Homo sapiens: one gene and its partner. The protein of the gene in region 1 purifies or fractionates together with the protein of each later gene. This does not show direct contact. Each region holds a gene or a part of one and is shown on either strand. Other genes may lie near its edges.

Region 1 (3,903 bases):
GAGGGAGAGGTGGGAAGTAGCAAGGAGATATGGATTAGCAAAACTCATCTTTTCTTTAAGGCAGTTTGCATTATAATTGCACCTAGATGTTAATTCTTAGCATGAGCAAACAATGAGTCAAATGTTTTGTTAGGCAGAATTTTTTCAATCCAGTTGTATGATAGCTTTATTTTGACTTTTAACTTTGAAGCCCTGTGGTAAAAATGGTACACTTTGTCAAAATATTGCTGGTTTCATCAGTTTTCCCAAGAGCCACTTTTGGTTTTTTGTTATTCAAGTCATTCTCTTCTAGAACCCCCTTGTATCACCTCGTTGCCGGTGTTTTCATCTCTAACTGCTCACTAGGCTCATTGTGCCCTGTCCTCAGTTGTCAGTGAGGCTTTGTATGATTTGAGAGTTTCTCTGTCTCATCATCCTTACTTCCCAGACTTTCTCCTGCAGGTTGGTGTCACCAGTGTTAAATACATTGCTGCATGGTGCCAAGGGGATCCTAGATTACAAGCCCCTCAAGGGAGGGGATTGTATCTCATGCATCCTTGTGCCCTTGACTATGTCTAAACGGTGTTGGGCAAGGTGGTAAGAACACAGTCTTTTGAGACAGACGCAGTTTCAATTCTGAGCTCAGCCCCTTACTGTGTGATTCTGAGCGGGTTACTTCACTTTCCTGATCAGACCTGTTTTCTCGCCTGTAGAATGGGGCCAGTGAAGCCCCCTCAGTTACTGTGGAACATATTTGTGAAAATCCCTCAGTAAAATCCCTCAGTTTTGCACATAGTAAGTACTAAATAAATATTGGCTAGAATCTATTTCATTTCAAATGGATGAATGAAAGGTTGAGTTACCAAATCCTAGAAAAGGTTTGTGGTCCTGTGGATCAGGCAGGTTTCCTAGAGGTATCTGGCACATAAAACAAAGCCAGGAAATACTGGGCCTCAGCAAAGCAACCAGGGCTAACAGTCTTTTCCATTGATGGTAAGCTGACTGTAAGCTGGCCTTGCTTTTATGTGCCTTACCCTATTTCATCCTCATGAACCTTCCAAATAGGTTTTAGTACCCCCATCCTCCCACCGAGAAAGCAGAGGCTCAGAGACATGAAGTAGTCCATCCAGACTCGCACATTCGCAGGAGATGGAGCTGAGACTTGAAACGCGTTGGTGTGACTCCCGTGTACTAACCCTTGTCTGCACTAGCCCTGCTCTAATCACCTCTCAGGGCTCTGGAAGCCATTCTGTGAGGCTTACTTTAGGCTAGGACATTGGCCCAGTCAGTAGGAAGCAGCTGTGGGTCCCCTGAGCTAGAGTGCTACCCTGAGGTAGTTGGAATTGGTACAGTGGGCAAGCTCCTGCCCAGTTCCTAAGTGGGAAATAGGAAAGGGAGGTAGGGATTTGGAGTATTGAAACTGCAGCTAGTATTTCAGGTGGCTGGAAATGCTGGCTGGTTGAAAAATGGGCCAGGGGCTATCTCCATTCAGTAATTTCCATGCCATTGCATCCCCAGGTGAAGGAATATGTCTCCAAAAAGGCCCTACCAGAAGAAGCCCCTGCTCGGAAGCTGCTGGACAGAGGTGGAGAGGGGCTGCTGAGCTCCCAGCACCAGTGGCAGTTTAACCTGCTGACCCATGTGGAATCTCTTCAGGATGAAGTTACGCACAGGATGGACTCCATTGAGAAGGAGTTGGATGGTAGGGCTCCTTCATTGGCCCCCTGTGCATTGGCATGCAGTCGAGCACCCCCAGACGAGCTGCTTTCTGAACCCCCCAGTCTGAGTTTACAGGGACCGCTGTACTCTTTGCTTCTCTTCTTTTCAGCCTCTCCCCACCTCCATTCTCCCCTCAGGATGGATGAGCCTTACTTTTAGTATTTATCAGGTGCAAGATCTGCATGATGTTGGGTCCTGCCTCACTTGTCTGATCCCTTCTGTAAAGTTGAGTATGCAGAGAGAGGGCAACTGGCAGTCCTGCTTGCAGGAAATATGTGATCTAAGCCAATCTTTACAAACAAGTTCTGTGAGAAATTAAAATTTTGACTTGAGTTTTAGGATATCTGAGGATTTAATCTGAAAAACCTCTTATTCCAATCTTTGATAAAATCTAAAATGAAGCTTTCTCCTCGTAAGCCAGTAGAGATTTGAGAATTTGCCTGAGTCATTTGTATAGCCCTGAGTATTCCTTCCAGATATTGGTGGTTACGGACAGGCCTGGAGGATCAAACCGGTGATGATGAACATGATCAAGTTCAGTCTCTCTCCAGGAAGTTGACGGTTTTGGTTGTTGAAATATTCCCTAATTATTTGTTTTCATGTTGAAAATGGAGCCCAGTTAAAAAAGAAATGTTGTTTGAGGATTCTGGGTACAGTCTGGCTATGATTTTTTACTGTAACTGGGAATATAAAACATACATGAAATAACTCAGGAGAAAATGCCATCTGTTATACAAGTGATGCCATGAGGTGTGGCCGGGACACATGTGGCTGATGTCAATGCAGAGGAGGAGAGTGCTAATAGGAGGGCTTCCTAAAACTCCTGAGACTGAAGTTGAGCTTTAAGGAGAGTGATGGTGTTTCCTACTGGAGAGGACTCAGGGTGGATGATCTGGCTAGACTGGAAAAAGAGTTGCCCTGTTGGAGGACAGTGAGAGAGACAGCAAGACCTAGGCTGGGTGTGGTGGCTCACACCTATAATCCCAGTACTTTGGGAGGTCAAGGTGGGAGGATTGCTTGAGGCCAGCCTGGGCATCACAGTCTCTACAAAAAAATAAAAAACTAGCCAAGTGTAGGGGTGTAGTCCCAGCTACTTGGGAGGCTGAGGCGGGAGGACTGCTTGAGCCCAGGAGTTGGAGGCTGCAGTGAGCTGTGATTATGTCACGGTACTCCAGCCTGTGTAACACAGACCCTGTCTCTAAAAAAATAAACTAAAAAAAAGGGATTGTAACTGATGCCACTGTCTGTGAAAAACATATTATTAGAGAGCTGAAGGAGGATATAATGTTAGACAAAAAAGTGTAGCTCTTGAGAGAATGGCAGTAGGAGTGGCTCTGTAGTCCCTGAAAAGAGGATTAGCACCATGGAAACAGGGTGAATGTTCGGTTGTTGCCACAGGGACCTTCCCTGAGGGAGAAGTTAAAGTCTACTCACATCTTACTTCCTTAATCCTCTCTTCAGCCAGGTTTGGCCTCTCTAGCCCTGCCGAATGGGCAGTGTGGCAAGGATGGTAGGCCTGAACCCCCTTCTTTGGCCTCACAGATGACCTCTTGTGTGTCTTGCTAATTCAGAGCCACATATTCTGTACATTTCTAAGACTCTAGGCCCTGAGAGAGATAACAAGAAAGCATTAAAATAAATGATAAAGCTTAAAGATTTTATTTAGGTAAACAGACTTTTGCATAGTATTTAAGATTAATCAAAATCCCTTTTTATGGAATCAACTCTTTATTTAAACACCAAGATAAACTAAGCTTTCTTTCTTTCTTTTTTTTTTGAGATGGAGTCTCGCTCTGTTGCCCGGGCTGGAGTGCAGTGGTGCCATCTCAGCTCACTGCAAGCTCCGCCTCCCGGGTTCACGCCATTCTCCTGCCTCAGCCTCCCGCGTAGCTGGGACTACAGGTGCCCGCCACCAGGCCCGGCTAATTTTTTATATTTTTAGTAGAGACAGGGTTTCACTGTGTTAGCCAGGATGGTCTCGATCTCCTGACCTCATGATCCGCCCACCTTGGCCTCCCAAAGTGCTGGGATTATAGACGTGAGCCACCGTACCCAGCCCTAAACTAAGCTTTCATAACCAAGTTTTAAAATAGGAATTTGGATGTAACATTCCTTTTTTAAAAAGCCGGCCTGCTTAGCTGGGTGTGGTGGTGCACACGTATAATCCTAGCTACTTGGGAGGCTGAAGCAGCAGAATCTAGGAGG
Region 2 (3,903 bases), on another chromosome or scaffold:
GGTCCTCATCACCTGTCTCACTGTCTCATGTGGTTGTTCATAAAGTCTGTTTCTCTTGGCCAGGCACAGTGGCTTAAGCCTCTAATCCCAGCACTTTGGGAGGCCGAGGCGGGCAGATCACCTGAGGTCAGGAGTTCAAGACCAGCCTGGCCAACATGGCAAAACCCTGTCTCTACTAAAAATACAAAAATTAGCCAGGTGTGGTGGTGTGCGCCTGTAGTCCCAGCTACTCAGGAACACCTGCAGTCCCAGCTACTCAGGAGGCTGAGGCAGGAGAATCGCTTGAACCCAGGAGGTGGAGGTTGCAGTGAGCCGAGATTACGCCACTGCACTCCAGCCTGGGTGACAGAGCAAGACTCTGTCTCAAAAAAAAAAAAAAAAAAAAAAAGTCTGTTTCTCTAGAAAAACACACACACACACAAAACTGAGTAAACAATATATGCACGTAGTAAAAAAATTCAGATTATTTTTGAAATACAACGAAATCTCCTATCGCTACAGGCAACTAGTTGTTTCTTGGGTATTCCTTTAAAGATATCCCATGTACATATAACAAGAAAAAATGGTGTGTATCTCATAAAAGCTTTTGCTGACAAAGACACACAGATAGACACACAACACACAGAGGTTGAAACTTTCAGGGAGAGAGCTGACCACGTGGTCTGGAAGATCACTGTGCCTACTGGGTAGTGCCTAGCCTGGCAGAACCACCTCATTTTGTAATTTCACAATAAGCTCTTGCTATCCCTGGATCCCATCAGCCACGAACTTTCAAAGTGGACCATCTAACTGTGCCCACTGCCTTGATGTCCCTTGCCTCTGGCACGTATCTGGCGAATGGCAACACACTCTTACCACGCAAACATCCTCTCTTCTTTGTGGCCTCCTTGGCTACCAACAGTTATTACAGAACCTCTGCCTCCCCAGAGCACTCTGGTCACCCCTGTTTCCAATTATCTCCCTTTTTCCCCTAATTAAGGTGAAAGAAAAATGCAACATTAAAGGATGTTTTAAAGCAAATCCCAACAACCTCAAGTGATTTTCATTCTGTATCCACCTTCTGTAAATGTTATATAACCACAATCAGAGCACACACACCCTTTTAAGACTGCTTTCTATGTGTGGAAGAGTCTTCTACTCAGACTTCAAGCCCCTTAAAAGTAGAAGAACTAAGTCTTTTTTTTTTTTTTTTTTTTTTTTGAGACAGGGTCTCACTCTGTCACCCAAGCTGGAGTGCAGTGGCCCAATCTCGGCTCCCTGTAGCCTGCACCTCCCAGGCTCAAGTGATCCTCCCACCTCAGCCTCCCAAGTAGCTGAGACTATAGGCATGTACCATCACACCCAGCTAATTTTTAAATATTTTTGTAGAGATGAGGTCTTGCCTTGTTGCCCAGGATGATCTCAAACTCCTGGGCGCAGGCAATCCTCCCGCCTCAGCCTCCTTAAAGTGCTGGGATGACAGGCATGAGTCACCATGAGCGGCCAAGAACTGTCTTAATGGATTGTCTTTGCATCTTGGTACCCAAAATAAAGCCTGAAATACAGGAGGGCTTGGATCCCCATTTGTCAGACCTTACTTGGGAAAACACTGAAGAGGCGAGCAGCATGCCCAGCATCAATACAAGTATAATTTCCCACAAAGAAATGAAGTACGCCACCTGCCATACAGCCATCAGGGAAAGGAACTGGACCTTCATGTTCCAGGAATAGTCCAAGGAGGGGGAAGGGAGAGAACAACTGTAAAGTTCTCATAAAGCCTCACACTCACCCTGGATGAATTATTTAACCTTTCTGGGTCTCAATAAAATTAAAACAAGAGCACCTACTTGATGATCAACTATCTAAGAAAGGTCCTAGGCAGTGGCCGGCCCAGAGCATGCACTTAGTGAACGCTAGTGGCCCTTCTCATCTGGAGGCCAGGGGTCTGCTGTTACACTGAGCAAAAGAGCCAATCGCACAAGCAAAAGAAATGCTGACGCTTGCCAAACCTAGGAATAACCCCACGATGATGGCCTGGCCAAAGACCACACCATTTAAGGGCTCTCGTTTGAGCTTTGCCTACTGGGTAGTGGCTTGTCTGAGAGAACAAGCTCTTCCTATGATTTTACATCAAAGTGCTGCTATCTCTGGATCTGGTCAGTCATAAGTCTAAACTTCCCCAGGAAACATGTTCTAAGTAGAAGCAAAGGTTTCTGTGACCTTCTGAGAACAAATGCCAAGCCTGCTGGTGCAAAGCAAGTGGGAATGAGGCCCTGGGGTTGGAACCATAATGAATTGGAAGGCCAGATGAGGGGACACTGCACTTCCAGGCCAAGTGGCTGGTTTTATCAGAGTCCGAGGGTGCCAGCTAATCTTATCACAATTCTATCATGTAAACAAAACTGTCCCAAACCCTGAGAGGCTCAGCAATTCCAGCAAGGTTTCAAGCATTCTTAGGAATGCTGAGGTAACGCCCAGTACCCTAAACTTTTTGACTCCTAGCATGCTCGTGTTCCCACTGACTTAGAAGGCCACATCTTTTCTTTCTTTCTTTCCCCTGCACCTTTTGTGTTTTTTTGTTTTTTGTTTTTAGAGACGGAGTCTTGCTCTGTTGCCCAGGCTGGAGTGCAGTGGTGCGATCTTGGCTCACTGCAATCTCCACCTCCAAGTTTCAAGCAATTCTCCTGCATCAGCCTCCCAGGTAGCTGGGATTGCAGGTGCCAGCTACCGCACCCAGCTAATTTTTGTATTTTTAGTAGAGACAGGGTTTAACCATGTTGGCCAGGCTGGTCTCCAACTCTTGACCTCAGGTGATCTGCCTGCCTCAGCCTCCCAAAAAGTACTGGGATTACAGGCGTGAGCCACTGTGCCTGTCCAGCTAATTTTTAAACTTTTTGTAGAGATGGGGTCTCACTATGTTGCCCAGGCTGGTCTTTAACTCCTGGGCTCAGGCGATCCTCCCGACTCAGCCTCCCAAATTGTTGGGATTATAGGTGTGAGCCACCACACCTGGCCTGACGAAGTTTTAATAACTGCTTTAAATTTTTAAAAAAATTTATTTTAACTAATTATTTTGATTCTCTTTTAGAATTCTTGTCAGTTGATACCAACATCTGGGTCCTCTTGGGGTTGATCTTCGTTGATTGCCTTTTTTTTTTTTTTTTGAGACAGAGTCTTGCTCTGTCACCCAGGCTGGAGTGCAGTGGTGCGATCTCAGCTCACTGCAAGCTCCGCCTCCCAGGTTCACGCCATTCTCCTGCCTCAGCCTCCCAAGTAGCTGGGACTACAGGCACCCGCCACCACGCCCAGCTAATTTTTTGTATTTTTAGCAGAGACGGGGTTTCACCATGTTAGCCAGGATGGTCTCGATCTGCTGACCTCGTGATCCGCCTGCCTTGGCCTCCCAAAGTGCTGGGATTACCGGCGTGAGCCACTGCGCCGGGCCCGTTCATTGCCTTTTTTTGTAAACACAGATCATATTTTCCTGTTTTGTAAAAATATATTTTAAAATTTTCGTTCTTTTTTTTTTTTTTCTTGAGACAGAGTCTCGCTCTGTTGCCCAGGCTGGAGTGCAATGGTGTAACCTCGGCTCACTGCAACCTCTTCCTCCCAGGTTGAAGCAATTCTCCTGCCTCAGCTTCCTGAGTAGCTGGGATTACAGGTGTGCGCCACCACGTCCAGCTAATTTTAGTATTTTTAGTAGAGATGGGGTTTCACCATGTTGGTCAGGCTGGTCTCGAACTCCTGACCTCGTGATCCACCCACCTCAGCCTCCCAAAGTGCTGGGATTACAGGCGTGAGCCACTGTGCCGGGCCCATTCATTGCCTTTTTTTGTGAACACAGATCATATTTTCCTGTTTTGTAAAAATATATTTTAAAATTTTCGTGGTTTTTTTTTTTGAGTCAGAGTCTTGCTCTGTTGC

The links.
Region 2: the proteins of PHF20 (region 1) and SGF29 purify together in Homo sapiens (affinity purification with mass spectrometry, with the first as the bait; one large-scale study listed by BioGRID). This does not show direct contact.

The regions. Positions count from the first base shown.
Region 1 is NC_000020.11:35,939,367-35,943,269, forward strand, and holds part of PHF20 (PHD finger protein 20), read left to right. Parts: intron 1-1,497; coding exon 1,498-1,681; intron 1,682-3,903. UniProt on the Homo sapiens protein: Methyllysine-binding protein, component of the MOF histone acetyltransferase protein complex.
Region 2 is NC_000016.10:28,560,201-28,564,103, reverse strand, and holds part of SGF29 (SAGA-associated factor 29), read right to left. Parts: intron 1-3,903. UniProt on the Homo sapiens protein: Chromatin reader component of some histone acetyltransferase (HAT) SAGA-type complexes like the TFTC-HAT, ATAC or STAGA complexes.